Linked DNA regions of Homo sapiens: all the other regions are linked to region 2. Evidence: fine-mapped expression QTL. A gene starts in region 2. Each other region holds a variant in brackets. All regions are shown on one strand. Distances are from middle to middle.

Region 1 (10,762 bases), 30 kb before region 2:
AAGACACATTTTTGCCTAATTAGCTTACTTAAATAAAATAACTATAACTGTTAAAATAGTGTTTTAGGCCGGGTGCAGTGGGTCACCTGTAATCCCGGTACTTTGGGAGGCCGAGGTGGTTGGAACTCTTGAGGTCAGGAGTTCGAGACCAGCCTGGCCAACATGGTGAAAATCCGTCTCCACTAAAAGTAGAAAAATTAGCCAGGTGTGGTGGTGGGCACCTGTAATCCCAGCTACTCGGGAGGTTGAGGCAGGAGAACTGCTTAAACCCAGGAGGTGGAGGTTTCAGTGAACCAAGATTGTGCCACTGCACTCCAACCTGGGTGACAGAGTGAGACTTCATATTAAAAAAAAAAAATAGTGTTTTAATTACTGCTTTCATGGTAACAAGTATAATGAATGACTATCAATAATTGGCGATGCTTGTGAATACTGATTTTTCATAGACATTTAAGCTGTTGTTTTATATTTATGAAGGTCTTATGTTAGAAACTATTGATAATGTATTAAACTTTATATTTCAGAAGTTCTACTTGCTAGTTATAGCTTTAAATCTCAAATTATTTTGTAGATCAAATAATATATCTCATAGGTAAGATTTTTTTATACAACACCTGATTGTTTCTTCAATTTGTAATTAATCTCAGTAACATCAAATTGTTTTTGTGGTAGAAATTTACCACCTGAAAAAATATTACATTATTTAAAAAATTGCCTAAATAAAATATAAATTTGAAAAACAGTACAAGATTTCATGAATTTATTAATTAATTTATTTTTTTCAGACAGGATCTTGTTCTGTTGCCTAGGGTGAAGTGCAGTGGCGTGATCATGGCTCACTGCAGCCTCGACCTCTTGGGCTCAAGTGATCCTCCCATCTTAGCCTCCTGAGTAGTTGGGACTGCGGGCATATGCCACCATGCCCAGTTAACTTTAGTATTTTTGTAGAGCTAGGTTTCACCATGTTGCCCAGGCTGGTCTTAAACTCCTGGGCTCAAGTGATCTGCCCGCCTTGGCCTCTAAAACTGCTGGGATTATAGGCGGGAGTCACCATGCCTGGCCGATTTCATCAATTTAAGTGTATGAGTGTTAAAGAAAAGCAAGGGTGCTGTTTAAGTTCTTCAGCTTCATTGTTACAAATAATCAAAAGGGAGAGTTGTTTGATTCATTCTTTCCCTCTAGGACAAAACATAGTCTCTGTCGTGAAATAAGAATTCACTCACAGTGTAGATACACCTTCCTGGCACCATGCTGATTAAAACATACTTTTAGAATATAATATCTCAAAAAATATGTTTAGATGTATTTGTTATGCTATAGATTCCATTACTTTGTTAGAGACTCAAAATTACTGTGGCTTATACATGATAAAGGTGAAAAAAATGTTCAAAGCTCCTTTTCTGCTAGAGTTTTATATTACAGTGGAAGGAGGTAAACTAACAAAGAAATATATCTAGTAACTGAATGAAATGAATGTTATTTAGCTACTGAAATCGTGGTATGAATGACACATTTTTTTTCAGAAAGAGAAAAAAGCTTATATAAAAGTATACCCAAGAGAGCATGTTTACTGAACAGATAATGAGGGAAAACTCGAGCACTTGTTGAGGGGTAGAAGAAGACAAGGCTGGAGAAATAGGTTGGAGTCAGATTGTGAAGGATCTTGGAATAACAATTTATAAAATGTTAATTTTAGCTGGGTGCAGTGGCCCATGCCTGTAATCCCAGCACTTTGGGAGGCTAAGGCAGGTGGATCACTTGAGGTCAGGAGTTTGAGACCAGCCTGGCCAACGTGGTAAAAACTCCATCTCTACTAAAAATACAAAATTATCCGGGCGTGGTGGTGCATGCCTGTAATCCCAGGTACTCAGGAGGCTGAGGCAGGAGAATTGCTTGAACCCAGGAGGTAGAGGTTGCAGTGAGCCAAGATTGCACCACTACTGTACTCCAGCTTGGGCGAAAAAGTGAGTATCTGTCTCAAAAAGAAAAAAAAAGGTAATTTTAAGATATAGGCAACAAAATGCCACAGATGCCTTTAATTGATTGTGACCTGATAGTATTTCTATTTTAGGAATATGTGTGTGTGTGTCTCCTTCTCCTTCTCCTTCCTCTCCTTCCCCTCCTTCTTCTTCTTCCTCCTCTTCCTCTTCCTCTCCTTGTCTTCCTCCTTCTCCTCCCCCCTCCCCCTCCTTCCTCCTCTTCTTCCTTTTCTTCTTCCTCTTCTCCTTCTCCTCCTTCTCCCTCTTCCTCTTCCTCCTCTTCTTCTTCCTCTTCCTCTTCCTTTTTCATACGGGATCTCACTCTGTCATCCAGGCTGGAGTGCGGTGGTGTGATCATAGCTCATTGCTGCTTCAGCCCCCCAGGTAGCTGGAACTACAGCTGCATGCCACAACCCTTCACTAATTTAAAGTTTTTTTGTAAAGATGGGTCTCACTACGTGACCCAGGCTGGTCTTGATCTCCTGTCCTTAAGTGATCTTCCTGCACTGGCCTCTCAAAACTCCAGCATTACAAGGCACAAGCCACCGAGGCTGACCTATTATTATTCCTTCATGGCATTTTTCCTTCAATGAACTTGACATTTCAGATTTAAAGTTTGTTGAAATTGGAAATGATTAACTTGCACCCATGAAACTAAGGCAGTGCTGAGAGTTGGAGAGGCAGGGAAGACACACTATTGTGGTTGTCCCTCTGAGACAAGACAAAATCTGCAAATGAGGGAGAGGTGGTGGGGATGGAGGGAGAGGCCTTATTCTAGGAAGACTTGGGGGTAAAAGGCACATAATTTGGTGATTAATTGGCGGAATAGGGAGGAATAAATATGATGTTACAGATTGTAGCTTGGGAAACAGCTAATGAAACCATTTACTGAAATTAAAAATGTTTGAGAGGAAATAGGTTTGTGTGTGTATATTGTGGAAAAAGACAATAACGAATACAGTTGTAGTTATGTGGTTTAAGTGCCCAAAAGACATCTAGGTGGGGCTAAAAGAGCCATTTGAGGGCCTGTGACACACTGAAGATGCCAAGTCATATGCCAGACAACTTACAGCAAGCGGGACTCTAATTCTTTCTGAAGATACTAAAGAACTATAGCCATGCATGGCTTAATGACAGGGGTATGTCCTTAGAAACACATCCTTACATGGTTTTGTCATGCAAACATCATAGAGTGTACTTATGCAAACCTGAATAGTACAGCCTACTACACACCTAGGCTATGGCTCCTAGGATGCAAACCTATATGTATAGCACTTCACTGTACTGAATACCATAGGCAATTGTAACACAAATGTAAGTATTTGTGTAGTTAAACATAGAAAAGGTACAGTAAAAATATGATATAAAATATTAAAATGGCACATCTGTGTAGAGCTTTTATGAATGGAGCTTGCAGGCCTGGAAGTTGCTCTGAGTGAATGAGTGAGTGGTGAGTGAATGTGAAGACCTAGGACATTACTGTAAACTACTGTAGACTTTATAAACCCTGTATATTTAACCTACACTAAATTTATAAAAAAATATTTTTCTGGCTGAGTGCGATAGCTCACACCTGTAATCCCACCACTTTGGGAGGCCAAGGCAGATGGATCACCTGAGGTTAAGAGTTCAAGACCAGCCTGGCCAACATGATGAAACCCCGTCTTTACTAAAAATATAAAAAATTAGCTGGGCGTGGTGGCAGGTGCCTGCTATCCCAGCTACCTGGGAGGCTGAAGCAGGAGAATCGCTTGAACCTGGGAGGCAGAGGTTGCGGTGAGCCGAGATCATGGCACTGCACTCCAGCCTGGGCAATAAGAACAACTTCGTCTCAAAAAAAAAAAAAAAAAGAAAAAGAAAAAAGAAAATATTTTTCTTTCTTGACGAATAAATTAATGTTAGCTTACTGTAAATTTTTACTTTATAACTTTTTAAACCTTTTGATTATTTTATAATAACACTGCTGAAAACATTATACTGCTGTACAAAAATATTTTTTATATCCTTATTTTATAAACTTTAGTCTATTTAAAAATTTAAAAAATTTGTTACTTTTATTTTCTTACTTTTTGTTAAAAATGAAGACACAACCGCATTAGCCTAAGCCTAGACAGAGTAAGAATCATTAACATCACTGTCTTCCACCTCCACATCTCACCCCACCACAAGGCCTTCAGGGGCAATAATAGGCATGGAGCTGCCATCTCCTGATAGCAATGCCTTCTTCTTCTGGATACCTCCTGAAGGATCTGCCTGAGGCTGTTTAACTTTTTTTTTTTTTTTAATAAGTACAAGTAGTACACTCGAAAATAATGATGATATGGTTTGGATCTGTGCCTCACCCAAACCTCATGTTGAATTGTAATCCCCAGTGTTGGAGGCAGGGCCTGGTGGGAGGAGATTGGGTCATGGAGGTGGATTTCCCCTATGGTGCTGCTTTCCTGGTAGTGAGTGCTTGTGAGATCTGGTTGTTTAAAAGTGTGTAGCACCCACCCCCTTTTCCCTCTGCTCTGGCCACGTGAAGACATGTCTGCTTCCCCTTCGCTTTCTGCCAGGATTGTTAAGTTTCCTGAAGTTTTCATGCTTCCCGTACAGTCTGTTGAACTGTGAGCCAATTAAACCTCTCTTCTTTATAAATTACTCAATCTCAGGCATTTATTCATAGCAATGCAAGAACTAATACAAATTGTAAAAAGTATAGTATAGTAAATACATAAACCAGTAACATAGTCATTTATTGTCATTATTAAATATTATGTACAGGACATAATTGCTGTACTTTTACTTGACTGGCAGTGCAATAGATTTGTTTACACCAGTATCACCACAAACACGTGAGTGATGTATTGCAATACATATGTCATCACTAGGCTATGACATCACTAGGCGATAGAAATTTTTCAGCTCCATTATAATCTTATGGGACCACTATCATATATGTAGTCTACCACTGACTGAAATGTCATTATGTGGCATACATAATGTAGAGTTTTCAAGGGTACCTTAAAGAACATCTATAAATACATACACACACAAACACATTTATACACCCAGTAGTCAAAATGATTTTAAAAATCACAT[G/C]TTAGCTCAAAAAGATAATTAACTTTTATTATTCATTAAAAATGAGCTTTCTAAAATATTAGTAAATTTCATTTTAAGCTCTGTCTTGAAGTGCTGATACCACTGAAGTAACATTTTTCTTCTTTCAATTTTTTCTTGTAAAATTATAGTTTTCTCTTTTTCTAAAACAGCAGGGAGTTCCTTCCAGTTCTTGATAAAGATAAAGGGAGCACCCATGGACTTGAGTAACTGCAGAGGAGCACCGTGGTGCACAGATGTATTCCCACAGTTGCCAGCTGTCATCACGTCTTCCACCACAGGAATGGAGCCATAGGAGCAAGCCTCATAGATTCGATAGCATTCTGTGTTTACTCCGACCGGGCACAATGTGAGATCACTCTGAAGCAAGGCATCTTGGTAATTCTTAAGACTTTCATTTGTTTCCTGAGGCTGCCAGCTAGAAAATCAGAAAAACAACTGTAGTTTTCACTTTACTAAGTATATAGTTTGTGAACAAAAATACCTTATCTTTTAATAAAATCAGTTTCAGGAAATGGTGAAACTTTATAGAGATGATAGGCATAAGAGATATCCAAAATCCTGGCCCAAACAGATTTCTTAAAAATGTTGAAGAATTGGAACATTTTACAGTTGTACATTTATAAAATCTAGGAGTCACCGTAACACTTCTGAATGGATAATAATAATTCAACCGATACTTTGGGAGTGCTAGGTCCTCTCTTCCCTACCTTGCCCTCATGGAGCATATATTCTAGTTCTAGTGGTGGAGATGGATAGTGACCAAGTGAAGTCAGTAAATTATTTAGATGGGGTAGAATACTGTGAGAAAAGAGCAAAGGAGTAAGTAGAGCAGGAGTTTCTAAGGGGGTAGGGTTGCAATCTTAAATAAGTGATGAGGGACTGTCTTACTGCGGCAGCATCTGAGCACAGAGTTGGGGATGAAGGAGCAAGCCACGTAGATCTGGCGGGATAAAAGAGCAAGCAAGAGTGAAGGCCATGAGACAGCATGTGCCTGGCATGTTCAAGGAGCTGCGGGGAAGCCAGGGTGGCTGAGGTAGGGTAACTGAGGGAACAGGCGCAGAAGATAAAGTCTGAATGGTCACACGGGACTCTATCATGCAGGCTTTTGATCATGGGGTGACATGACGTGATGTAGGTTTCATCAGAATCAATCTGGCTATTGTGTTGAGAATGGACTGTACAGGGGCAAGGGTAGAAACTGAAAGATCAGTAAAGAAAGATAGACGCGGCTGGGTGCGGTGGCTCACGCCTGTAATCCCAGCACTTCATGAGGCCAAGGCGGGTGGATCACCTGAGGTCAGGAGTTCGAGACCAACCTGGCCAACAAGGTAAAACCCCGTCTCTACTAAATACAATAATTAGCCGGGCGTGATGGCGTGCACCTGTAATCCCAACTACACGGGAGGCTGAGGCAGAAGAATCGCTTGAACCTGGGAGGTAGAGGTTGCAGTGAGCCGAGATCCTGTCACTGCACTACAGCCTGGGCAATAAGAGTGAAACTCAGTCTCAAAAGAAAAAAAAAAAGATAGATGCTTTCTCCTGACTATTCTCAGTGAAATAAGCAATAGGGTCATAAAGTAAGAAAGGCGGAGGTGTTAGAGTGTAGGAGAGAAGAAGGTATAAAACAGCCTTCTAGGAGAGTGGGAGAATATATGGACAAGGGAAATATAAGACTGCTGGGCACCTGAGGTTCAAAGTCACGTGTTTAAATAAAGGTCAATTAGCACCTTTCTCCAATTATGTGTAGTTGCATGGGTGCAGGCATGGAGTAGGCAGAGAGCTGGATTTAACCAGAGTTATGGTTTGCCAGATTAGGGAATTAGGGAGCTGAAGGTATAGGCAATTATGATTGACAATGAAATTTAAGTTAGGTGAAGAATAAAATGAAGAAAGGGGAGTGAAGGACAACAAAAGGGTAGTAGGAACAATAGATTCTAAGTGCCAGCTGAATTGTCAGAGTCAGATTATTACACGGAATGAGCTGGAATGACAGATGATGGTGGTTGTAGAAAGAGATGCTGGGACTTGAGATCATGTTCAGAAGGTGCAGTATGTGTAATGACAAAGTCTAGGAAATAACCATGAGAGAGAATGGCTGAGGTCAGGTGGAAGCCCAGATTATTGGAGGAGGGGAGGTGAAGGAACTGCAAAGACCAAAATGACAGAAAGACCATCTATGTAGATTTGCCAGTCACTAAGAATTGAGAACAGAGTAGTGTCAGACAGAGCTAGAGAGTACCAGGAGCTAAACTCTTCGAAGAAGTAGGGGGAGAAACCCAAGGGTAAGTGCATGATTTCAGAGAGTAAGGGTGATGGATGGTTTTGTCTGCTGACATGAGTTTCAAAATTGGGATTATTAGGGAGGGAAAGGGGAGAATAGTCTAGAAGCAACAATGAGAAACAAGGAAAACATCTACTCAAACCTCTGGCTCAATGGTATGAGAGGAGTTACAAGAATTATTCCCATAATAACCTTTGTTATTTTACACTGTCCTCATTCATTCCACTCCAGACATACTGGCCCTGTTGTTCCTGTAACATAGTAAGCACATTCCTGCCTGCCTCAGGGCCTTTGCTCTTCCCTACGTCTGGAATAGTCTTCTCCCAAATATACACAAGACTCACCCATGCACATTCTTAAGGCCTGTGCATAAATGTAACCTTCTAATGAATGCCTTTCTTGGCTATTCCAAAATAGCAAATGCTCCACCACCAACACCCAAGCTCTTTCTATGCCATTCTTCTGCTTAATTTTTTACAGGGCATTTATCATCTTCTGACACACAATATATTTTACTTGCTTGTCTACTCCAACAAGCATTTAAGTGCCAGGAGGGCATGGACTTTGTTTTGTTCACTGCTGTATTTACTGTGGGTAAACAAGTTTCTGGCATAGAGCAATTGCTTGGTAAACACTGACTGAACGAATATGATATGGTTACATTAGCAATAAAGAGTACCTGCTATAATTTAAAAAGTAAAATTCCAGACCTAACTGGACATTTTTAAGGCATTACTTCCCTGATGACTCTGCATTATGCTTTGTTTATTTGAAAACTTGATTTGTCTATTTAAAAACAAAATAAATGATTGCAAATTTACTTCCTTCACAACATGAACACCTGTTTCCTGGTTACTACATAAAAGAAGACATTTAACCCTATTGAGTCTCCCTATCCAACCATTCATCCACTCACCATTTATCCTAGGTCTACTTTGTGCAAGGTCCTATGTTAGATCTGGGGATTCACAGAAGAATACAAGGTCCATGTCCTGAAGATGGTGTCAGGTTCCTGAATTCCTGAATTTGTGAGACCTGCACACCGGTCTTGGAACACTGAATTGGTCCACTGCACAACATCTCAGTGATGAACCTAAGTATCTCATTAGCATCTATAATCTCCTGTGTGACTAACAAATATTATTGAGGAAACCCTAACAACTGAAATTTGCAAATGACAGTTACCAGTGTTCCTCTTCAAGATGGACTACAGTCATAGGCGGTTCTCTCTATTCTAAATGTGTACAACCCAGTCTTTTCACAGTTTTAATTACTAATGTATCTTCTGGGGAAAGATTGGTACAAATAGAGTTAACAATGCCTCTTTGGAAACCTGTGTTTCTACATAAAGCAACTCTCAGACTGGAGAACAAAATGAATGAATTAAATAAGCATAGAACTTACTGTTCTCTTGCTGAAACCCAACAAAGCTTATCGTTCCCATCTTTTTTCAAAATGTTCATTAGTGCCTGTCTGGATGAATTTTCATAAATCGTTCCTAAGAAATTACATAAATATGGCCTCTCATCATGCAGCATTGACCAACTTGCCTCCACCACAGGAAAATTCCTGTATCTATAAAAATAAATACACATGAATTAACATATGATATAGAATTGGCAAAAATTCCCCATAACCCAATCTCTTAGGTAGCAAGAAGTATACAGAAGAGGTTTAAAATGTGATTTCTAAATCTCAAATTGTAATTTTCCATGAATACTTTGGAAAACTCCCTGAATCTACTGACTTAAAAAAATTGAATTTCACACTGACATCTCTTACAAAAGTGTTACAGAGATGTTGTGCCTAAAGTTATTTGTTTTTGACATTCTTTAACTTGCATTACTCATCTGCAGCTGTTAGGCATGTTACATTCAAAACCTTCAAAGTATAAAGACTCTTCTCTATTCATAATGATCACGATTTAAGCAACATTTTAACCAGGTGATGAAAAGATTACAGAATACTCCAGGGGAGGGAGATGGATGGGGAAAAGGAAGATGTTGATCGAAGGGTATGAAGTTTCAGTTGGACAGGAGGAATAAGCTTTAGTGATCTATCACACAGAATAGGGTGACTATAATAAATAATAATGCACTGTATATTTCAAAATTGCTAAAACAGCAGATGTTATGTTTTTACCACAAAAATTGTTAAGTATATAAGGTTACGGATTTGTTAGTCTGATTTAAGCATTCTACGTTGTAAATATATTTCAAAACATCATTTGTACCCCATTATCATATACCATTACTATTTGTCAATTAAAAAAAAGGAAAGATTATATATTTTGCTATTGCAAAGGGCTCTGAAAAATTAATCCCAAGGGCTTTTCAAGTAGATTAAAACAAACTGACAGATAAAACCATGGTATGCCATACAGGAAAAGTTACCTATTTTTATGAGCATTTGGAAATACCAGGGATTAAACTGTGTACCTGAAATGTAACTTTCACACGAGAACAAAATTTTACCTAACAGTTTGTATATAACAGGGTTTCTTAGCCTCAGCATTACTGACATTTTGGGTTAATTTTTTCTTGTGGAGGCTGTCCTATACATTGTGGGGTGTTCAGCTGTATCCCTGGGCTCTATCTGCTAGATACCAGTTGTGACAACCTCTTTCCTCCAGTTGTGACAATCAAAAACGTCTCCAGGCCAGGCACAGTGGCTCATGCCTATAATCTCAGCACTGTGGGAGTCCAAGGCAGGCAGATCACTTGAGGTCAGGAATTTGAGACCAGCCTGGCCAACATGGCGAAACCCCCTCTCTATAAAAAATACAAAATTAGCCAGGAGTGGTGATGCCCACCTGTAATCCCAGCTACTTGGGAGGCTGAGGCAGGAGAATGGCTAGAACCTGGGAGGCAGAGGTTGCAGAGAGCCAAGATCGTGCCACTGAACTCCAGCTGGGGTGACAGAGCAAGACTTCGTCTCAAAAAAAAAAAAAAAAAAAAGTCTCCAGACACTGCCAAATGCCTCCCGGTGGGCAAAATTGCCCCTGGTTGAGAACCACAGACCTATATAAGAAATATACTGGCCTAGTGCAACAACATCATGATTACCAAGAGGTTCCATCTTATACTATATGAAAACATTTTACAAATGCAGGCTCTGCTCAAAAAATAGATTTTTAAGAGGGTCTTAAACCTGGCTTTACTTAACAAGAACCTTTTTGTCTGGCCTTACCCCAAACCTACTGAGTTAGGGTGTTATAGGAGTAGGCTTGGGAATACATCTCATTACTGGCACAGATGTGCCAGTGACATCTGTGTCGCTAACTAGGCAGCAGTCTAAGGCCACATCCCGCAACCAGGGACAGAATGATGAATAATGAATGTATGATTCAAAAATCATGTCAGTGAGATTTTTCATAATTTATCCACTCAACAAATACAGA
Region 2 (10,762 bases):
ACCAGCAAAGATGTCCATATTCTAATCTTTAGAATCTATGAATATGTTACCTTACATGGCAAAAGACACTTTAAAAATATGATTAAGTTAAGGATGCTGAGGTGAAGAGATTATTATAGATTATCTAGGTGGGCCCTATGTAATCTCAAGAGTCCTCACACAAGGGAGGCAGGAGTGTCAGAGTGAGGCAAGGGATATATAAAGATAGAAGCAGAGGTCAGAGTGATGTGGGGCCATAAATGAAGGAATACGGGTAGCCGCTAGAAACTCTAAACGGTAAGGAAACAGGTTCTCCTCTAGAGCCTCAAAAAGTAACACAGACCCCACACATTTTAGAGTTCTGCCTTCAGAAAGGTAGGATACTGCATTTGTGGTAATTTGTTATGGCTGCAATAGGATGCTATGGATTATACAGTTAAGATTATGGTACCTGGAAATGAGGTGCTACTGTAACAAATACTTAAAAATGTGGAAGTGTCTCTGAAATTGGGTAATGGGGAAAGGCTGAGAGAACTGTGAGGACATGATTTTAAAAAGCCTAGATTAGATTGCCTTGAATAACCTGCAGATAGAAATATGGATGTTAATGACTCAGCTAGTGAAGACTCAAGAAAGTGAGGTAGAGTAGAGAAAACCTGTATTGTCTTAGAGGATATCTAAATGATCACAAGCAGATTGTTGGTAAGAATATGCAATGTTTTTTTTTTTTGAGACAGAGTCTCGCTCTGTCGCCCAGGCTGGAGTAAGGTGGCATGATCTCGGCTCACTGCAACCTCCACCTCCCGGGTTCAAGCAATTCTCCTGCCTCAGCCTCCTGAGTAGCTGGGATTACAGGCACGTGCCACAATGTCTGGCTAATTTTTGTATTTTTGGTACAGACGGGGTTTCACCATGATGGCCAGGCTGGTCTTGAACTCCTGGCCTCAAGTGATCCACCGGCCTCAGCCTCCCAAAGTGCTGGGATTACGGGCGTGAGACGCCATGCCTAGAATATGCGTATTAAAGAAATTGCTGGTGAGGGCTCAGAAGAAAATCAGGAATGTGTTATTAGAAACTGGAAGGATGAGGATCCTTGTTATATAACAGTAAAAAGCTTAGTTGGATTGTATCCTGCAGTTACATGGAAAGCAGAACTTGTGATAAACTTTAATAATTAGCTGGAGGGTTCCAAGCAAAGTGAAAGGTGTGGACTGGTTTCTTGGTGATTAGTGAAATATAAGAAAAAAGAGATAGAAGGAAAAACTGTTAAGCAAAAGGGAACCAGAATTTGATGATTTGGGAAATTCTCGGACCATTAAGATTGCAAAAGATGTGAAAAATTAGATTTGCTGCCTGAAAAGGGTGTTCCAGAAACAAGACCAAGGATGTGGCTGCACAACCTTTTGCTAGTGCCTCAGAAGGATCAGAAGATCTGAATATTCATTCACACAAAGGGCTCTTTGAAGAGATTATACATGTGACTTACAGGTCTCCTCAGCCATCTCAGCAGAAGCCAGAAATGGAGATGGGATTACTCAGAAAAGATCTGCAGAGGAGCTTCCCATCTAATGGAGTGAATCCTGTGACATACACAGAGGGCCCACAAGGTTCTTCAGAATGTTTTATGAGCAGAAACGCTGCCAGCTTGGACTAAAAAAGACAGCAAGAGGTCACAATGAAAGAAGGCTGATGGGCTCTGAAAATTTTACCAGCTGTCAACAGGCTGATAAAATTACGAAGCTGCAAACTTGTGCTACTTTTTATGAAAAAGGAAAAGATGACTTCAAGAGTGTGGCTGAGATGCCAGAGGGCAAAGCTGTACAACCTATAGATTATTCCTAGGCCTGCAATATCATCTAATGGAGCTGGCCATTTAGATGAAATTTAGATTTCAAAATTGCTTGGACCAGTGACACTTTTTTACTTCAATTTTTCTCCCCTTTTGAATGGGAATTTCTATAACGGTATTTTATAACTGTGTCTAGAGAATAGGCTGATCAAAGTAGCATTTTTCCTGCTAGCAGAGGTGTTAAAAAAAAAAGGTAGCATTTGATGAAATTCACTTGGCCACTTTGCACTTATCAGATTGAAAAGAGAGAAGTCTGGAAATGAAAATCTGAGATTTAAAAGAAGAAATCAATATTAGAGACTTTATTTAAAAAATAATGGCTAGAACTTGATGATTGAAGGCCTGGTTTCAGGTACTTGAAATTTAGAGGTTGGTAGTAATCTTCTAGGATATATACTTGTATGTAAGTATGAACGAATTTATGAAATACCATGAGCAGAGCACTATGCTCTGTACATTTTCCTCTCATCTGGTACTTTCTATCCATATGCCTTATTGTACATAAACCCAACTCATGTTCAAAGGCCACATAAAGCGCTTTCTAAGTCACTAAATTCTTTGTGACTCTTTAAACCCTCAGGGCCCCATTCTCTAATTGAGCATAATATATATCTTAGAACACTACACTCTCATGATATTCACAGCAAAAATGCTTCTGTGGTCAATCAAGTTTAATCAACTACATACTATAATATATTCCTTCGCTGATACAATGAACATTGTCATATTAAAGGCTCTTGAGAAAGGCCTGCAATGAAGAACCTTGTTTAACTTTGTACTCTTCAGTGTTTCCCAAATGTGTTTGGCCATCAAGGGCAGGGGCCACATCTTATACTTGTGTATCAAGTGTCCAAAAAATACACAGATTCATGAAAATTCAGTTGACATATGCATTGCAATCTAATGACACTATACAGCCTACTCAATGTATCAATAAATGAAGCTGTGCTCTGCTAAAGACCAACAGTGGAATATGTATGTGTGTACATTTACAAACAGATGTTGTCTAATTGGAAGGAGAAAGGAATTATTGACAAAAAGCGAAAAAATATATCATGATGCCTTAATTAACAAATTATGAAATAAATTATATTAAAATGAATTTCATATCAATAAAATACATTTTATAATGCTTTTTACATGTCTTCCTTCTACGTATTAACTTACCAATGGCAGCTTTGCCCCAGATTTGTACACTGAGATCTGTTTTTCCTTTCGTGGATTTATCTAATATTTGAAGGCTAGTTTTAAATCTGTGTTGTTGCTCATTTTTTTCATCTCCTTCCCAAGGATTCCATTCTTCACTTTCCAAAGTGGACTGTTCTGTTTTAAAAAGAGTAAGTGTTTACCAGTAAGGTATTATTGCAGTTGTAGGTAAATTCAAATCATTTAAATTAAGTGTTAGTTCTAATTTCATCCTAACTTTAATTTCTGAGAGGTACAGCAACTGAATTTAAACTGGTAATACACAATGAAAACAAAAAAGAAAATCAGCAATTTTTTTACTGAACTTTTTTTACTCTGAAAAGTCTTAGAAATAAAATGCTACCTTGAGACAGGAAAATTCTCTTCCCCAACACAAAACCTTTAAAAATAACAGGATAATATGTATCAAGTTACAAGCTTAACTTTTGCAATTATTTTTATCCATTGTATACAGGTAACCTATGCACAAAAAACTGACTTCAGAGTGTAGTGTTCACCAGTCTTAGATACTATCGTGCAAAATTCTGAATAAAGGGAAAGAGAAAGCCGAGTCTGATCTTAACACAAGTTAAAACACAGGACAGGGGACCAGAATTTGGAGGTAAAGTCTGCCTTATGGTCACTGCAGGATTAGAGAGGGCTTTGTTTCAACATGGAAACGGATGTCTTAAACCTTGCGGCGATTTTGAGGCCTTCCAGGAGCATTCCCGCAAATCTCTGGCATTTGAGACGACGTCTTGGATTTTAACACGTGTTTGAAAGGCGTGCGCGCCTGTCACCCCCTGGGATCGGGAGCGGGGACGGCGTGTGAGATCTGGGTAAGAATGAGGACCATTCTCCAATTCCGAGCCAAGGGCTGGCTCGAGAGGCTGTAGGGGGCAAAGCGCTTCTCAGGCCCTGCGGGTAATCCCGGACTTGAGAGCCGGGTGCGGGGACCCGGCCCCAGCCGCCCAGCAGCCCCAGCCAGGAGCGCAGAGCCGGAAGGAAGCCGCCGACCCAGTCCTACCTCGGCCGCGTCTCTCCCGCGCGGGGGCCGCCCCCTTCCTGAGGCCCCGCGGGGACCCGGCCGGCGCCTGGCGGCGGCGCCCGAAGAAGACGTGGTAGGCAGCGTAGAGGGAGAATAGGCAGTACAGGGCGATAAGAAACGAGCAGAGCCGCTTCCGCGTCAGCCGCATCCCACTCGGGCTTCCAGTCAGGCATCCACCGCCATGGAGCGGGCGGAAAGAGAATCCGCGACACCGGCGGCGTCCGAGGCAGGCCCAGCCCGTTTCCAGGCAGTCCCCAGCCAAGGCTCCTCCGCCCAGCGCCCGGTACAGCCCCGCCCCGGACACGCCCACCGCCCGCCTCCCGCCCAGGCCCCGCCCCCTCCAGTCGCGGCTCATCCACCCGGCCGAGGGCCTGCCCACCTTCGACACTGGAGGAGGGGGTACTGGAGCGGCCCCTACCCCACGCTGCTTCCAGACGCCGGGCTGAGTGGGAACCTCTCTGACCTCTGCCGTGTACTCATTGCACCTTTCAACCCTGGCCACTTTTCCCAAGTACATAAAGACTCGGGGGAAAAAGAACACCCGCGGTGGTCCATGAAGGCCATGTGAAGGCATGGACTGTGACGTTTTTTGCTCTGCATGGAATCCCTAGCGCCTAGGACAGTGCCTACTACGTTGATAGATGAGTGAATATAAACGTCCTTTAAAAAAATTAAGTGATGATGGTCGCTTAACATTGTGAATGTAATTAATACCACTCACTTGTATGCATAGAAATAGTTAAACTGTCGAATTCATGTTTTATATACCTTACTGCAATAAAAACATTTTTAAAGTTAAGTTTCATTATTATGTGAGTTGAACGCACATAGGCATGCAGTATTTTGTCAAATAGAGGCTGTAAATGTGAATGCTTCAGAAAACTTTGTATCCAGCCTTGGGAAGATGGGCTACAATGTTTTGTCAGTTGCTCTGGTACTACTGTTCAAATTACCCAGCAGTCTTGCGACGGTATGTCTGCTAATTAGGGTGACCAATGGTCCCAGTTTGCCCAGGACTGTAAGGATTCTCCAGTTGGAGGATTTTTAGTGCTAAAATTGAGAAAGTCCTAGGAAATCAGTAAAATTGGTCACTCTAGCACCGACCCTAAACTATTAGGTCAAACACTTTACCCAATCCCCCAAACAGTTCCCTGCCTCAAAAGACCTGTTTTAAACCATTTTTGCTCAGACTCCCCAAATCCTATAAATATCACCCCCAACCTTCTCCTTCTGAGACTGCCAAGCTTCTGTCAAAGTGTGGCCTCCCTTACTGTAGTAGATTTAATAAATTTAGCTTTCCTTGATTAACAGGCTATTCTGGTGTCTTAGGGAGATGGCAGTTGTTTTATGTATGCTGTATTGTTGTTTATCCTATTTTGTTTGTTTGTGGAAATGACAATTATTTAAGGATAGGAAGTAATTACCTTATAATTACCACAAAACACCCACTGTATCAATGTACATTCAGATGCTACTGACTAATGGTTTTACTATTGAGAAATGCATACAAGGTAAAACTAATATGCAGTTGATGTCATCTTGAATAGGGGAGAGGGCCATGAAAATGAAGGAGTTGTTTTACCTCAAACTGCAAATGACTGCATAATTTGATGATAAGCTTTTAAAAATGTATTTAGGTTACAAAGGAATCTTCTAATTGATCTAAGTCTGGCAGAGTTCATTTTCCTTTCTCTTGGTGTTTAATGGTTGAGCTACAGCTGGGAGCTACTTTCTGTATATGCTCTCATCTCTTCAGGTGGATGGAAAGAGAGGGAAAGAGATGTGGTGGGGAATGCAGCAGTGTGGAGGGGGAGACAAGGTTAAATATCCTCTGGGGGTTGAAGCTCCGCATATAGGGAACCAGACCTGAGAAGGAAAGATGTGGGAGGAAGAATAGAAATAAAGGAATATGAGATGAATTAAACTAAAGCAGGGCTAAAATCTTTACTTGGTGAAATTTTCTACTCTGTCTGCAAAGGGAAGAACTATTAATCAACAAGATATTGAGAAAATAGCCCTAATGTCCTAATGCCTTCTTCTAGTTGACTGTGAAATAGTACACGCTTATTCTTAGAAGTCCCCAGTACAAATTTCTTGTGATACCTGGTCAAAATTCTCTTCTTAGTTTATCAAGTTTCCAGTAATACTCAAGAAGTGTGTTAACTACTTTGAGAGATTTTTCACAGCTTGGCCAAGCTTCTGTGTCAAACCCTTTGCAAGATACTTCTAGCAGGGCTTGGCCATGTAAGTTATAAACTATAGCTATTTCAAATTTGTAAGAATCAGTCCTAAGAAGATACATTTTTCTTTTTCATGTGAGTACAATGCTCACAAAAATAAGTAATAAAACTCTACAGAAATATATTGGCATTGGGAAATAGTAAGCAAATTATAACGCCTTCTTTAAACAATCAATCAAACAACATACTAATAACCAACCAAACAGAAACTAGGATGAAGGTTAAAGACAGAACAACTCTGAGGTGAAATTGAAGCAGATGAGCAGAAACAGATTCTGTGCAAACATCACTTCCTCTGTAAATCTTTCCCTCTCCTATTTCCCCTTCCCCACACCCTCTAAACCCTATGCACAGTTTCATCATTGGTGTAACATTTCATCACCAATTTTGTTTATGTATTCCATATGATCCACCAGCCTTAACTAGTGTGATAGTTGTCTATGGACTCTGTTCTACTAAAAGCCCTTATGAGTGGGTGCCACCATGGTGATAGTCTCAGAGAGTGATTCAAGACAGCTTGAACCCATGTGACTCCATCTCTCATTTACCACTGACTTCATTTGCATATGCTGTTTTTCTAATGATATTATTATCATCAACTTGGGGTAGGAGGCTACTGAAAGGCCCCAGGAGTGATATAAATGCATTTCAACCTCTTAAAAATTAAAAAAAAATTTTGTGAGTACATCGTAGGTGTATATATTTATGGGTTACATGAGATTATTTTGATATAGGCATGCAATGTGTAATAATCCCATCAGAGTAAATAGAGCATACATCCACTGAAGCATTCATCCTTCGTGTTACAAACAATGCAATTATACTCTTTTAGTTATTTTAAAATGTACAATTAAATTATTTTTGACTATAGTCACCCTGTTGTGCTAGCAAAGACTAGGTCTTATTCATTCTTTCTTACTGTTTTTTGTCTGCATTAACCATCCCCACTCTCCTCCCCCACCTGCCCCCACTACTCTTCACAGCTTTTAGTAGCCATCCTTCTACTTTCTATCTCCATGAGTTCAATTGTTTTATTTATTTATTTTTTAAAGTAGAGACAGGCTCTCATTATGTTGCCCAGGTGGGTCTTGAGATCCTGGGCTCAACTGATCAGCTTGCCTTGGCCTTTCAAAGTGCTGGGATTACAGGCGTGAGCCACTGTGCCTGGTCTCAATTGCTTTAATTTGCAGCTCCCACAAATAAGTGAGAACATGCAAAGTTGGTCTTTCTGTACTTGGCTTACTTTACTTAACATAATGACCTTCATTTTCATCCATGTTGTTGCAAAATGCAAGCTCTCATTCTTTTTTTATGGCTGGATAGCACTCTGTGGTGTATATGTACCACATTTTCTTTATCCATTCATCTGTTGATGAACATTTAGGTTGCTTCCAAATCTTGGCTATTGTGAATAGTGTTGCAATAAACATGGGAGTGCAGATATCTCTTCAATATACTGATTTCCTTTCTTTTGAGTATATACCTAGGAGTGGGATTGCTGACTCCCATGGTAGCTCTATTTTTAATTTTTTGAGGAACCTCCAAACTGTTCTCCATAGTGGTGGTACTAATTTACATTTCCACCAACAGTGTACAAGGGTTCCCTTTTCTCCATATCTTCTCCAGCATTTGTTATTGCCCTTTCAACCTCTTTTAGTCTCATTTAGTGATGTCTTTCTGTGCTTTTTGCTCACTTCATTTTTTGTGGTTGCAAGAATGTAAATATTTGATGTATTCCCTCTCCTAATTTTGACTTTTCATCACAAGGTCTTGATGGCTTATACATATTCCCGTGAATCCATCAACTTCATGCATTCTTATTTCTATTAACTCACTTAACTCACCCAGATAGATTTATTCTTTTCCAGTAGAATAGACACATCTGATTAATAATGCACCTTTAATAATCTGAGATTTATCTTTATTTTTACAAACTCTGCCATGTTTATTTTATATCAGGATTATTGCTAGCTGTCTCAAATGGGTTGGATAGCATTTCAGTCCTTGAACAGTTTATATAGCATGGAAAATACTGTCTGTAAAAGTCTGACTGCACTTTTCAGTAATATTCATTGGCCCTAGAACTATTTTTTGAGATAGTTCTTTAATAACACTCGTTTGGTTTATTCTTGCTTGTAATATTAATACTTAAGTCTGTTTTGGCAATTTTTATTTACTAAGAAGCCAGTTTACCTCATTAGGATTAAAAAGCATTCAGATATATCCCTTCTTTCATTCCTAATTTTATTCTTTTGAGTTTTTCTTTTTTATAGTGAAATTTTCAGCTTTTATAATTGATTGTATGATTTTATTATTGGTTTTCCCCTCTCCTTCCAACTATCTTTGGATTTATCAGTTTTGTTTGTCTATGTGGCAGTTACTAGATTGTGCATTATTTTTCATTATTTTGTTTTTTCTGTTTTCCTGTTTGTTTGATCTTTTCTCTAACTTTATTAATTGGACAGTTGGTTTAACATTTTATCATTTCTTCTTAATAATGAAATCATAGAAACTGATTAATTTACCACTGCATCCTGAAAGTGCAATATTTTTACTCTTTGCTATTTAGATTTTTTATTTGATCCAGTAGAGATTATAGGAGAGAGTGTATGTGATATTTTAATGACCAAGTAGTAAACATTTTGTTAGATCAGTCCTTAAAATTTTTACCAATATGATGGCTGCAATGGACTTTTATTATTGTAATTTTCATTTCCCTGGTTAATAATGAGGTTGAGTATCTTTTAATATATTTATTGTTTTTTTGTTTTTATCCTCAGTTTTTATGTTTTGTATAGTTTTTTATTTGTTGCTTATCTTTTACTATTGATTGTAGAATTTCTATTTACTTTATACAGCAATCATTTGTTTATGTACATTAAGTATATTCTTCCAATTTTTGGCTAGTCTATTTTATTTGTATACATATTTTTATTTTTTCTTATTTTTATTTTTTATTTTTTTGGACAGAGTCTTGCTCTGTCATCTAGGCAGGAGTGCAGTGGTGCAGTCTCAGCTCAATGCAATCTGTGCCTCCCAGGTTCAAGTGATTGTCCTGCCTCAGCCTCCCAAGTAGCTGGGATTGCAGGTGTGTGCCACCACACCAGACTAATTTTTGTATATTTAGTAGAGATGGAGTTTCACCATGTTGGCCAGGCTGGTCTCAAACTCCTGAGCTCCACCCACCTTGGCCTCCCAAAGTGCTGGGATTACAGGCGTGAACCATCACACCCCACCATATTTTATTTATATTTACTTTTATTGTAAAGACATTTTAAATTTTAACATAGCTAAATTTATCAGTCTTTTCCTTTACAGTTTGGGGGGGTGTGTATGCATATATGGGTGTGTGTGTGCATATGTGTATTCTTTAAGAAAAATATGCCTGCATATTCCTATTAGAATCTTAATTAAAATTGGATTAAATTTATAGAATAATTTGGGTAGAATCAAGTTACAATATTGAGTTATTCCACCCAAATGTATTACAAATTATCCCAGTACCAATTATTGATAGGCCGTCCTTTAATGACTGCTCAGCAGTGCCTCATCTGTCAACATGAGGCTTTCTTGTATGTGTAGTCTAGCTCTGACTTCTCTGCCTTTCTTGTCTCAATTTCATACTATCTTAGTTACTATAGCTTTATAAGTCTTCATATTTGGAAGGACAATCTCTCCAATTTGCTCTTTTATTTTACTTTTTAAAATTGTCTTGGCTATTCCTATTTCCCTGTACATTTTAGAATTAGCTTGTCGAGTTTTACTAAAAAACACTCATGAATGGTAATTAGCATTTTATTGCATTTATAGGATAACTTGGGGAATAATTGACTTTTTATATAATATTGAATTTTTAATTCTATTTATGGACACTAAAACTGTGCCTGATTTAATTTTATACAAGCAATGCTACAGGGAACCCCATTGTGTTTGTCTCCTTGTTCCCGTGTGTGACATCCTCCAGGGCACAGCTCCCAATTTGCACGTCAATAGAAAAATGTGAAAAAAAATTACATTAATTGACAAAAGTAAGTCACAGAAGGAAATGGATGGTAAGGTAGTATTTAGGTCCAACTTAATGTCTTTCAATACAGCTTTATAATTTTATCCATACAGTTTGCATATCTTTTATTGGATTTTCTATAATAGGATTGGCTATGTGTAGCAGAGACTCAAAATACCAGTGATTTAAATAAAACAAATCTATTTTACGCTACATTAAAGTTTTGAATGAAGTAAATTCTTCACTTGTCTCCTGTGATATTGTGACATGTATGTTTGATTTTCCACCTCCAGTTTCTTGGCATACAACTAAAATCCTTGGAATAAGTGTCTTTTTGAATGCTAATGAGATGACTGGTGGCTGGTAGCCCCTTGGGTAGCTTCAGGTTAGGTGCTGGTCACTGGAAAGACCAAGGCAGGAATAGAAGGTTGGAACTTTCTTCTCCACCCCATAACCTC
Region 3 (10,762 bases), 36 kb after region 2:
CACACATCCTCCTGTACACTTTAAATAATCTCTAGATTACTTATATAATGCGTACACATCTCCTCATTCATGTGGATTCAACATAGTCCTCAGTGTGTGGCAAATTCAAATTTTGCCTTTTGGAACTTTGTGAAGTTTTTTCCCCCTAAATATTTTTGATCCATGGTTGGTTGAATCTACTGATGGGGAACCTATGGATATGGAGAGCCAACTGTATTTCTATTAATGTTTCCAGTTATTTCTATGATATTTAAGAGAACAAAAAATATTTTTATCATCTTTAAGCCTATTATGAGCCCCTCATGTCACATGGTACACAGCAATCCTGTAATCAAATTCATCCCAGGCCACATTCATCATCAATGATTAACATGCTGCCCATGATGCTACTTCATTTCCTGCAGGCTGCCAGAAAGAGGTGGTACAAACAAGAGTTTCCTGACATAACTCCATGTGCATAGGAATGTAAATTTAAAGCTAATCACTGAGAAATAAAAATTTTGAAATTGTTCAATTTTTAAAAATTCACTCTGTTCCTAGCACCACCAGCCAAATAGTCCTACCTTAATCCTACCCTAATCCTGTTTTACAGCCTGGACTCAGCTAGACCCTGCTACTAAAACATTAAACCAAAGGATATTGAGGATTCCTTTCCGCTCTGTATCACACGGTTATATACTAAAGGCACATAGTATTGCGAGGGCGATAAATACAAACAAAATTAAACAGAACAAAAGACAACAGTACTGAAGGAGCACAGAAAAGAAGAATGACATCAGGGAATGATTATTAGTCTTAGCTTTGGAACTGGAACTTGAAGAATGAGTAAGATTGGCTGGGTGGAGTTGAGATGATACGGTTTGGCTGTGTCCACACCTGAATCTCACCTTGAATTGTAATAATCCCCACGTGTCAAGGTTGGGGCCAGGTGGAGATAATTGAATCACGGGGGTGGTTTCCCCTATACTGTTCTCATGGTAGTGAATAAGTCTCGCGAGATCTGGTGGTTTTATAAACAGGAGTTCCTCCGCACACGCCCTTTTGCCTGCCGCCACGTGAGTCGTGCTTTTGCTCCTCCTTTGCCTTCTGCCATGATTGTGAGGCCTCCCCAGGCAGGTGAGACTGTGAGTCAATTAAACGTCTTTCCTTTATAAATTACTCAGTTTTGGGTATATCTTTTTTAGCAGTGTGAGAACAAACTAATACATGAGGTAAGGGCAACCCCCAGGAGAGAAAACCATAATAATGTTCTTTTGGAGAAGAACTCTCTCTCCTTTGTTTTTTGTGAGTCTTTCATAATTTTTCTTTTAGCAGTTTGTTTCCATCAATTACTTTAAATTTAATGCCATCTTCTCACGAACAAATTAGTATTACAAAGCAATTTATTGTCTGATCACTGAGCCAGTTATAACTAAATGCTACTGATTAACATGGATATTTGGTCCTTGCTTAATGTTATTTCAAAAATTAAATTTCCAACTTGTTGAACTGCCTATTCTCAGATCTTTTCATAGGAAATAATCTAGTGCCTTAAGCTGCTTGGACTATACAGGAGCCCATTAAAGTTGATTAAATTTTAATTTTTTTCTAATGAATCCTATTTATATTTATTCTCCCATCATACTGTTACTTATCAAATTAACTCTCTTCACTTGTCACTTTTTTTAATAGAAAAATGGAGCTTATTTTCTGTCCTTTTTAAAGCAAAACATCTAGATTTGTTTTCTGTAGCATGAGATTCATTCTAAGGTGAATTCCTTAGCCTATAAAGCAAGGTTTCTATTTCCTCCTCTTTTTTTTTTTTTTTTTTTTTTTTTTGAGACAGAGTCTTGCTCTGTCACCCTGGCTGGAGTGCAGTGGTGTGATCACGGCTCACTGCAGCCTTGACCTCCTGGGCTCTGGTGATCCTCTCACCTCGGCCTCCTGAATAGGTGGAACTACAGGCACGTGCCACAAAGCCCGGCTAATTTTTCTATTTTTTGTAGAGACAGGGTTTCTTCATGTTTCCTGGGCTGGTCTTGAAATCCTGGGCTCAAGTGATCAGTCAGTCTTGGCCTCCCAAAGTGCTAGGATTATAGGCATGAGCCACTATGCCCTGCCCATGGTTTCTACTTCTAAAACCACCAGAGAGACTTGTTAAAACATCATTTTAATCTACAAAACCAAGTTTTGGTTAGGACATATAGAACACTGAATGGAAAACTACATTAGGATTAACAAAACCTAGTCCTATATTAATTTTGCATCAGATTTGTATCATCCTGGATAAGCACATGGACCTCTGAATTGTGGTCTTTTCATTTCTATCATCATTCCTGTTATGTTTGTGGGAATGGTGGGAGGGTTAAAGCATTGTCAAAAGCCTTAGTTTATTCTTTGAATCTCTGTGGTGCTTTTGAAAACTATTGTTCAATCAACTTAATCTGGGATGAGGTAATATATACAGTAGTTCAATACTAGAAATCATTGCCTGGTGACCAGAGCCAGTGATTTTAGGTACATGAGTTTAAATATAATTTCAAATTTAAACTTTAATGTAACCAAGAAGGTATCTCTTTGTGAAATCTCCCCTACTATCCTAGAAATTTAATTTCTCCTTTCTAATTCTGTACCTTGTATAACTAATCTGGCACATATCTTGATATACTGTAATTTTTAGGGTCCACTATTGTACTGCACATTCCTTAAGGAAAAGGGCTGGACTTCATTTATTCTCAAGGGCAGCAGGGTGGAGAATGAGTAAGACACAGGCTCAAAAGCCAACCTGCTGGCTTTAAATCCAGGTTACACCACTGGCCGTCTCTGTGATCTTAATATCTCCCTCCCATAGTTTTCTCAGTTTTAAAATGAAGACATTAATAAAAGCATCTTGCTAGTTGGGATTAAAGAAATGAATATATGTCATTGGGGTCAATTCAAGTTTTATAGGCCTAAAGTTTAAACAATTTTGTAGAACTCCTTAAGAGAAAGAAAACAAAATTTAGTGTGGAAATAGATATATTTAAAGTGATGAAAGAACAAGTTACACACACAAAAAAAACACAGAATGTAGCAAGCTATCTTAAGAAAACTAAGAGCCTAATGTACCTCTATAATTTTTCCTTCTTTTTTGGCTATATGTTCTTTGATTGCATTTTCATACAAAAAGTTTACTATTGAGATAACACAAAGATTTTAATAGTTAGCATAGCTGATTGAAGTTTGTTTTTTATTAATCATTTGGAAACGTTTATCTCTGCTTTACAACTCATCAGTAGTGTCATACACATTTTTAGGATTATTGTCAAATTTGGGAAAGCCTCTATCAAGATATTATTTCTGGCCTGCAACTTCATGTTACAATGGCTGGTGAGTTTTCATGATGAGTGGTTGGAGCGTTCCTGGAGGTCAGTCCAACACTGAATGACTAAAAATAGCTTCTGCAAGACAGTGACTGCCAAACACAAATATTCTCTAGAACAGAAACTAAATATATGATGAATTTAATTTCCCCTTAACTGGATCTGCAAAATTCTTGTGGTAACTTCCATGCCACTCAACATGACATTTTGCAGAATTTTAGGATGTATTTGTTTAGGTGAACACATTGCTAAAACCTCTTCCAAAGTTTTGAAAGGGGCTGTGGAAATGAGGGGACCTGAACGTTAGCTTCATTAGCTTCATGGTAATCTGCCTGCTGCTTACTAAGAACTGTGTAACAAGTGACTATTCCAGCACAGTTAGCACAGCACACAAGCAGGGGCACACCAAAGACTCAAACTGCTAGAAAGACATCTTCCTTCTTCATCCTAGCTGAGAGTTAATTCCTCAGTGTGGAAGAAATTAAGACTGCTACCAGCCTTCCTTGAATTCCCTCCAAACCCATGTGAGTAAACTTCTGCATCATTTTCTCTGCTTAGCACTCTATTTTCTCACCAAACTGATGCCCTGTCAGGAGTTCCAGTTCATTTGGCTAGAGTGAGAACATCTGTTTAAATTATCTGTTGTTGCCTAACAAATGTCAAAGAAAAAAATTATTCGTGACACTCGGTAAAGCACAGTAAGGCAGACATTTTTCAGAACATCTTGGTAGGTGAAGGGATGGCACAGTGGGGTCCTGCAGTAGGGGAGAGACATTGTGCTCAACCTCAAACAACAAAAAAGTGGACATTTCTATCTAGAAAAAGCAGGGTGGGCTCAGTGGGTGGAAAATTACTAACTGGAAACATCAGGGGTAAGGGAAGATTCTGGCTGAACTGACCTAACAGGATTCTTGCTAAAGGCAGGCAGTGCTGATCAGACATCACCTGGGTGCTGGTGGAGGGGGAGGAAAATGATCAGGTATCGAAGGTGATCAGATACTGAGGATGGGGAATTCTGGCTAAATGGACTTGGCAGGATTCTTGTTAAAATTGCATTCTATAAGGAAGGACACCGGAGTCCAAGAAGAGACTGATGTAACTTTGATTCTTTGTCACAAAGTATCGAAAAACAGCTGCTTAAAACAACAATTTTATTGTTCATAATTCTGTGGGTTAGGAATTAGGTGGGGTTCACTGGGTATATCTCATCTCCCTTCCATGTGGTATCAGCTGGGGTCACACATGCTGTTGCATTCAGCTGAGAGCTCAGCTGGGGCTGCGACATTCAAGACGGCTTCACTCACATGGCACCTAGGCTAAGTGTGACTGGAATGGCTGAGGACTGGCTGGATCTCTTTCTCTCTGTCTCCTGGAAATCCATTATTTAACAGCACGACTCTTGCTTCCATGCTGGCTGGATCCTAACACAATGAAAATGGAAGCTGCCAGGTCTCTAAAAGGACAGACCCAAACTGGCACTGAGTATTGCGGCTACATTTTCTTGGCCAAAACAAGTCACAAGTGAGCCCAGATTCAAAGGGAAGAAAGATAGGTTCTACCTCTTGATGGGAGAGGCAACATGCATGTTGGTGGCCGTCTTTACAGACAATTTTCTACAATGTGTCCTCTGGCCACAACAATTCACGTCTCTCCGATAGGCAAAAGATACCCAACCTCCTTTCCTTCTCTCTACCTGCTAAAGCCTCATCTAGTTACCCATTAGACTTAAACTCCAGTCTGCATCCAGTCCTGATAGCTCTCTGTAGAGAATAAGAGACTTTGTAAAGAGAGAGACCATGCAGACTGGAAACAATGGATCCAGGTTGACAGCCAGCACCAAAGCCCCAGATGGATGAGCAAGACCATCTTGGACCCTCCAGCCCTAGTTGAGGGTCTCAGACAGCACCATGTGGAGTGGAGAAGAACCACCTCAACTGATCGCTGCTGGAATTTCTAACCCACAGAGTCATAAGTAATAAAATTATTGTTTTA[G/A]GCCACTAAATTTTTGGATATTATGCAGCAATAGCTAGCTGAAGCAATATTCGACTTAGACTTTATCTTCATTTATTTCTTGCTTCTTTTATTACCGTAGGATTTGCCTTGGATTCACCTTTTGTCATTAAGCCTTGACATTGAGTTTCCATTCCTCCACCTCATGTTCCTTAAGCTTGTTTGCCCCAGATTCCTCATTCTCCGTATCAGTGTCTGTGGCCAAAATCATCAAATGTTTCATGCCTCCCTTCCATACAACAAAGGTCATTGGATTTGTGATTAGGAACTTATAAGTCTCCATTTCCATGACAGATATGTGGATAAGAGCCAGGTTGTGAGATTGAGGAGTGGTGAAAAAAACCCAAAAATAGCCTGTGTAAACTTTACAAAGTTTGAGAATAAAAGGAGAGTAGGGGATGGGGAGATAGGTTAAGGGGGATAGGGATGGGGCTAAAAGAGGAAAAAAGAAATAAATAGAAATTATATAAATAAAAATAGATGTGTATATAGATATTTACACATCTATATACCTGTACCTGTCTATACTTGTACCTGTCTCTGTATCTACATCTATATCTTTATTCCAGGCCAAGATGTGACTATTTGAAGACCTGAAGTAGTTCTGAAAAGATTTAGGAAATATAAATCCAAGGTGTCTAAAATCTCACAAGATTACCAAGGATGATGATTGAGAAAGCATAGAGAGCAAAGTTATGAGTCAGAAATACAAACTTCTTGTGGAAAATGACTGAAACAAATCCTTCATACAGTATCATATTTCATGACAAAATTAGATTAAGAAAATCCCATCACATGCAGAGGAAAATAACTGTGACTTGCTAGCTTCTCTATCTTCAAATAAGCTTATGCTGAAGATAGAAAATCAAGGAAGCAGACAAAATGTTGAAAATTCCATAAGAGACTGCACGACAAAGCTGGCATATGAGGCCGTTGTGATCTTATATTTACTAATATTACTGTTCTAACAAGCTCCTCAGTGCGATATTCTGAAACATTACCATCTGGCAGAAATCAAAAGTAAATGTCTCAAAATTCACTACATACCCTGAAAGAGAATTTAAAGAGACAATTATATATTCAGTATCTTCAAATCCATGGAAATACCTGTTACACTGAATTGGTTCTAGGATATGGTACAACAATGAATTTTGTGAGGATTAAAAATGCCTTCATGGGATGGAAGATTATCATATCTCTACTTCCAATGCAAATGAGAGACTAGTTCCTAAATCACATACTATAGTATCACTATTTTGCATATACTCATGAAATAGTACTTCCAGAGACAGAAAATCAAGTTGCCCTAAAAATGACATCACGAAGGGCTCACTCGTATAAAAATGGCTGCAATAGCCTGACAGCCTTACCACAAAAGGTTACCTCAGGCAAGAAAATGATATATGTGATCATTTTACCAAATGTTTTGTCATGACATAATGAGTTGCCATTTTTCTGTTTCCTGTAACACTTTCCTTGCCCCCTCCCCTACCTACATGGTTTTTGTTCCATCAACACCTCACTTCTAGGTACCAGTAATTGAGTCAGTTTTTGCTGTGGTAACGCTGCAGAAAAACAAGCTAAATGTATTTATTTTCACAATACATGTGGCTTCAGGCTGCAGATGACTGAGGGCTGGCTCTATGTGTCTTCTCTTCTTAGTTTGGGACTTGGTCGAAAGAGCCACCTCTCACTGCACATGCTGTTCTATCATGGCAGAAGATGGGAACAGCAAGCTGTGATGAATCAAGCAATTGTGCTTAAAGTTTTTGTGCAGAATTGGCACATTGCTACTTCTGCTCACATCCTGTTGGCCAACGTGTGTCATAATATCACATGGCCAACCCCCAAAATCAAGGAGGTGAAGAGAAATACTCCTTTCATAGTGACCACCTTACACGACAAAGGGCGGGGGTGGGATATTCTATTACAAAGAGGGGCTGGGCGTGGTGGCTCACACCTGTAATCCCAGCACATTGGGAGGCCGAGGCAGGTGGATCACTTGAGGTCAGGAGTTCAAAACCAGCCTGGTCAACATGGTGAAACCCCATCTCTACTAAAAATACAGAAATTAGCTGGGCGTGGTGGTACACACCTATAATCTCGCTACTCTGGAGGCTGAGGCACGAGAATCGGTTGAGCCTGGGAGGCAGAGTTTGCAGTGAGCTGAGATTGTGCCACTGCACTTCAGCCTAGATGACAGAGTGTGACTCTGTCTCAAACAAAAACCAAACCAAAGGAAAAGAAAACCCCAAAATCAAACAGGGAGCAAGGAGTTGGAAACAATTATCTAATCTATTGTCACTTCAAAATAGTTCCTTATTTCAGGGTGACATTAGTTCATTCATTCATGAATTCAACACTTATTGAGTACCAAATATATACTGGATATTGCTCTTAGTGCTTGGACTACATCAGCAGACAAAACAGACAAAGCCTTCTCTCATGAGGTTTATATTCTAGCTGATATTTCTAAATAGAATATTGGAACCTACACTTCAGGTTTGCTTGCTATTGTCCATGAAGTTAGGTTTGGTGGTGATCTTTCACTTGCTGTTGGACTGCTCTTTTTTTTGTTTTGTTTTAAAATGATTCTACCTCTGCCTCAGCAATGCTATTTATGAACATTTTGAAGTAGGAAGTGATGCCAGATTATAATTACATGGGTTTATATATGTGAATTCTCTAAAATGTTGCCAGATGATGTTATGTAAAAATGTTAAGTATAAATTGGGAGCTGAAATAATGCCCAGAGAAATATTTGTTATCCACACTAACCAAAATTTTGAAAAAGCGTACAAAATATTATTAGAATGAAGAAGATCTAGCATTCGATAGCACAACAGGGTGACTATAGTCAATAATAATTTATTGTACATTTAAAAATAAAAGAGTAAAACTGGATTGTAACACAAAGGATAAATGCTTCAGGGGATGAGTACTCCATTTCCCTGATGTGATTATTACACATTGCATGCCTGTGTCAAAATATCTCATGTACCCCATAAATATGTACACCTATGTACCTACAAAAATTAAAAATTAAAAGAGTAACAAAACAGAGGAAGGAAAGAAACAGAAGACACCATCTGAAAAGGCAGAGATCCAGCATACAGAGAAGATGGGGAGTTAGACTTTCTATGTCCCTTCCTAAGTCATACGTTCACTCATGATTCAGTTATTTATCCAGTGCTTCTTTCGCATCTCCTACTATGTTCCCTGTTCTCTCGTAGGTGCTGGGAATACAGTAGTATGCAAAAGGGACAAATCTTGACTTCATGAAGCCTATGTTTTAGCGGAGGGAGAAAACAAGTAATTAAGTAAAATACGTAAGATGCCAGATGATGCAGCAGTTTGGAAAGTAAAGGTCATTGTCAAAATGGTGAGAAGAGTCTAATTAACTTAATGTAGTTAATAAAGAGCTTAATAAAGGTTAGTAATTAATAAAACAGTGCTTAAAGCACAAGGGATATGCTATGCCCTGGAGCTAGTAACAGGGAGGAGCTCTTAACACCTGAAAGTAAGGAGAGGGAGAAGTTACTCAGAGAAGGGAGCTGAAGGGAGAGAGCTGCTTGATAGGGAGTGTGGTCCTCACAAAAGGGAGGCAACCAGCTGGCCATGGTGGCTTACACCTGTAATCCTAGAACTTTGGGAGTCCAAGGCAGATGGATCACCTGAGGTCAGGAGTTCAAGACCAGCCTGGCCAGCATGGTGAAACCCCGTCTCTGCTAAAAAAAAAAAAAAAAAGGCACAAAAATAATTAGCTGGGCATGGTGGCACGCGCCTGTAGTCCCAGCTACTCAGGAGGCTGAGGTAGGAGAATCACTTGAACCCGGAAGGCAGAGGTTGCAGTGAGCCGAGATCACGCCACCGCCTCCAGCCTGGGCGACAGAGCAAGGCTCCATCTCAAAAAAAAAAAAAAAAAAAAAAAAGAGGGAGGCAGCTAACACACCGGGACTTGGCAGGAGCGGAGCTGGGAGAATAAATTCCCAACCTCTTTCTCTTCCCTCCTTGGATCTCGTTCTGCTGCCTTTTATTGGTCAAACCCGACAGGAAGCGGAAGGACAGCAGAGCTTGTTGATGGAGAGCATCCGGTCAGCCTCCTGGTACACGTGGCAGGGCTGAGACGGTGGCAAGTGAATATGGGGCTGGGGCTGGAAGACATCCGGGGCAGATGACGGTAAGTGCTATGGTGAAAAATAAAGTAGGAAAGAGAGACAAGGAGGAAATACGGTAAGGGACTGACATTTTGAAATAGGGGGCTCAGAGGAGGCCTAAATCAACAAGATTGTGATATTTAAGCAAAGACTTGGAGGCTGAGGAATCTGAGGAAAGAGTATTTCAGGCAAGGGAATGCAGATGAGAAGTCTCTGAAGCAAAACATTCCCTTGGGGCTGGAATGGAGTCCAGCTGCAGCCACAGCGGGGATGAAAGCAGTCAGCGAACTGCCCCAAGTGGAGCAGCTTCTGTGACCTCTCCACTTTGGGGTCTGAGTGGGCACCGCTCCTACCTGTTCTCTGCCTTGTGAGCACCTGGGAGAGACTCTTAGGGTGTAAGTGAGGAGGGGTGGTAGTGGGGCTCTATCTCTTGTGCCATGACCCTGAAGAAAAGAACCTTTGTCCTTTTGAAATGGCATCGTTTGTGTGGGATAAAACTTGAGGTTCATTGTCTAATGCCAAGGAAATCGAAGACGCTGACAAACACAAGGAGTGAGTTTAAGAGAAGAGGCTTAATAGGTGAAAGAAAGAGAAAAGAGAAAAGCTCTGTCTCCTGCAGAGAGAGATGGGTTTCCGAGTGGGTCTTCCAGTTTTGTGGTGAAATGCACGGGGTTTTATAGACGAGCTTGAGGATGCGGTGTCTGCTTTACATAGGGCCTGAGATATTGGTCGGACCAGGTGTGCTGTTTGCATAGCACACGAAGAAACTGGCCGCCCCACCCTAATCTTTTATTATACAAATGGGTTCCCTACCTGGCTAATGCCATGTTGCCTGCTTCTTTACTGTACACGTGGTTGACAAAAGGGAAGATGCAGCCTCCATGTTGAACATGCCTGGCTCCCATTGTAGCCTTTTCCTGTTGGCACAGCTGCCAGCATTCACCCGTGCGAGCTTCTAGCTTGCTTTTCTATGCTTGCAGCTTGATTTTTCAGGCTGCTCTTTGTTAGAAAAGAAATGATTTGGGGGTTGCTTTTGCATTAAAAGAGAAACCTTGCCAAGGACTCTCTTTCCCTCACTATCTGCCTTAATAATTTCTTTCTAGCTCCTGTATCACTTTCTCTCCCTCTCCCTATCTTTCAAATTTTCCTTGGTTAATAGAGGCAGATGAAGGAATAAAGCAATCTTTTAGAGATGCAATGTTTCTGACTTTTCTTCTTAATTTCTAAGCAGATTTGAAGAAAATTACCTGATTT

What was found. PIP is the estimated chance that this variant, and not a neighbour inherited with it, causes the effect.
Region 1: its variant is fine-mapped to the expression of RXYLT1 in blood mononuclear cells (TOPMed, PIP above 0.99). The same link has a PIP of 0.9 or more in caudate and whole blood.
Region 3: its variant is fine-mapped to the expression of RXYLT1 in coronary artery (GTEx, PIP above 0.99). The same link has a PIP of 0.9 or more in tibial artery.

What each region holds. Positions count from the first base shown.
Region 1 is chr12:63,803,409-63,814,170 of GRCh38, reverse strand. It overlaps RXYLT1 (ribitol xylosyltransferase 1), which reads right to left. Exons shown (of 6, transcript NM_014254.3): 5 at 8,767-8,937; 6 at 4,609-5,496. The coding sequence ends at 5,079. It overlaps RXYLT1-AS1 (RXYLT1 antisense RNA 1), which reads left to right. Exons shown (of 4, transcript NR_126167.1): 3 at 1,864-1,964; 4 at 5,231-5,326. Among named protein-coding and RNA genes, the nearest start is that of RXYLT1-AS1, 13 kb to the left of the region's middle. The variant G/C (reference allele first, on the strand shown) is at 5,061.
Region 2 is chr12:63,773,408-63,784,169 of GRCh38, reverse strand. RXYLT1 (ribitol xylosyltransferase 1) reads right to left here and starts at 4,261. Exons shown (of 6, transcript NM_014254.3): 1 at 4,041-4,261; 2 at 2,996-3,151. The coding sequence starts at 4,209. RefSeq lists silencers at 3,893-4,192, 3,921-4,196, 4,213-4,442.
Region 3 is chr12:63,736,934-63,747,695 of GRCh38, reverse strand. No RefSeq gene overlaps it. Among named protein-coding and RNA genes, the nearest start is that of RXYLT1, 38 kb to the left of the region's middle. The variant G/A (reference allele first, on the strand shown) is at 5,334.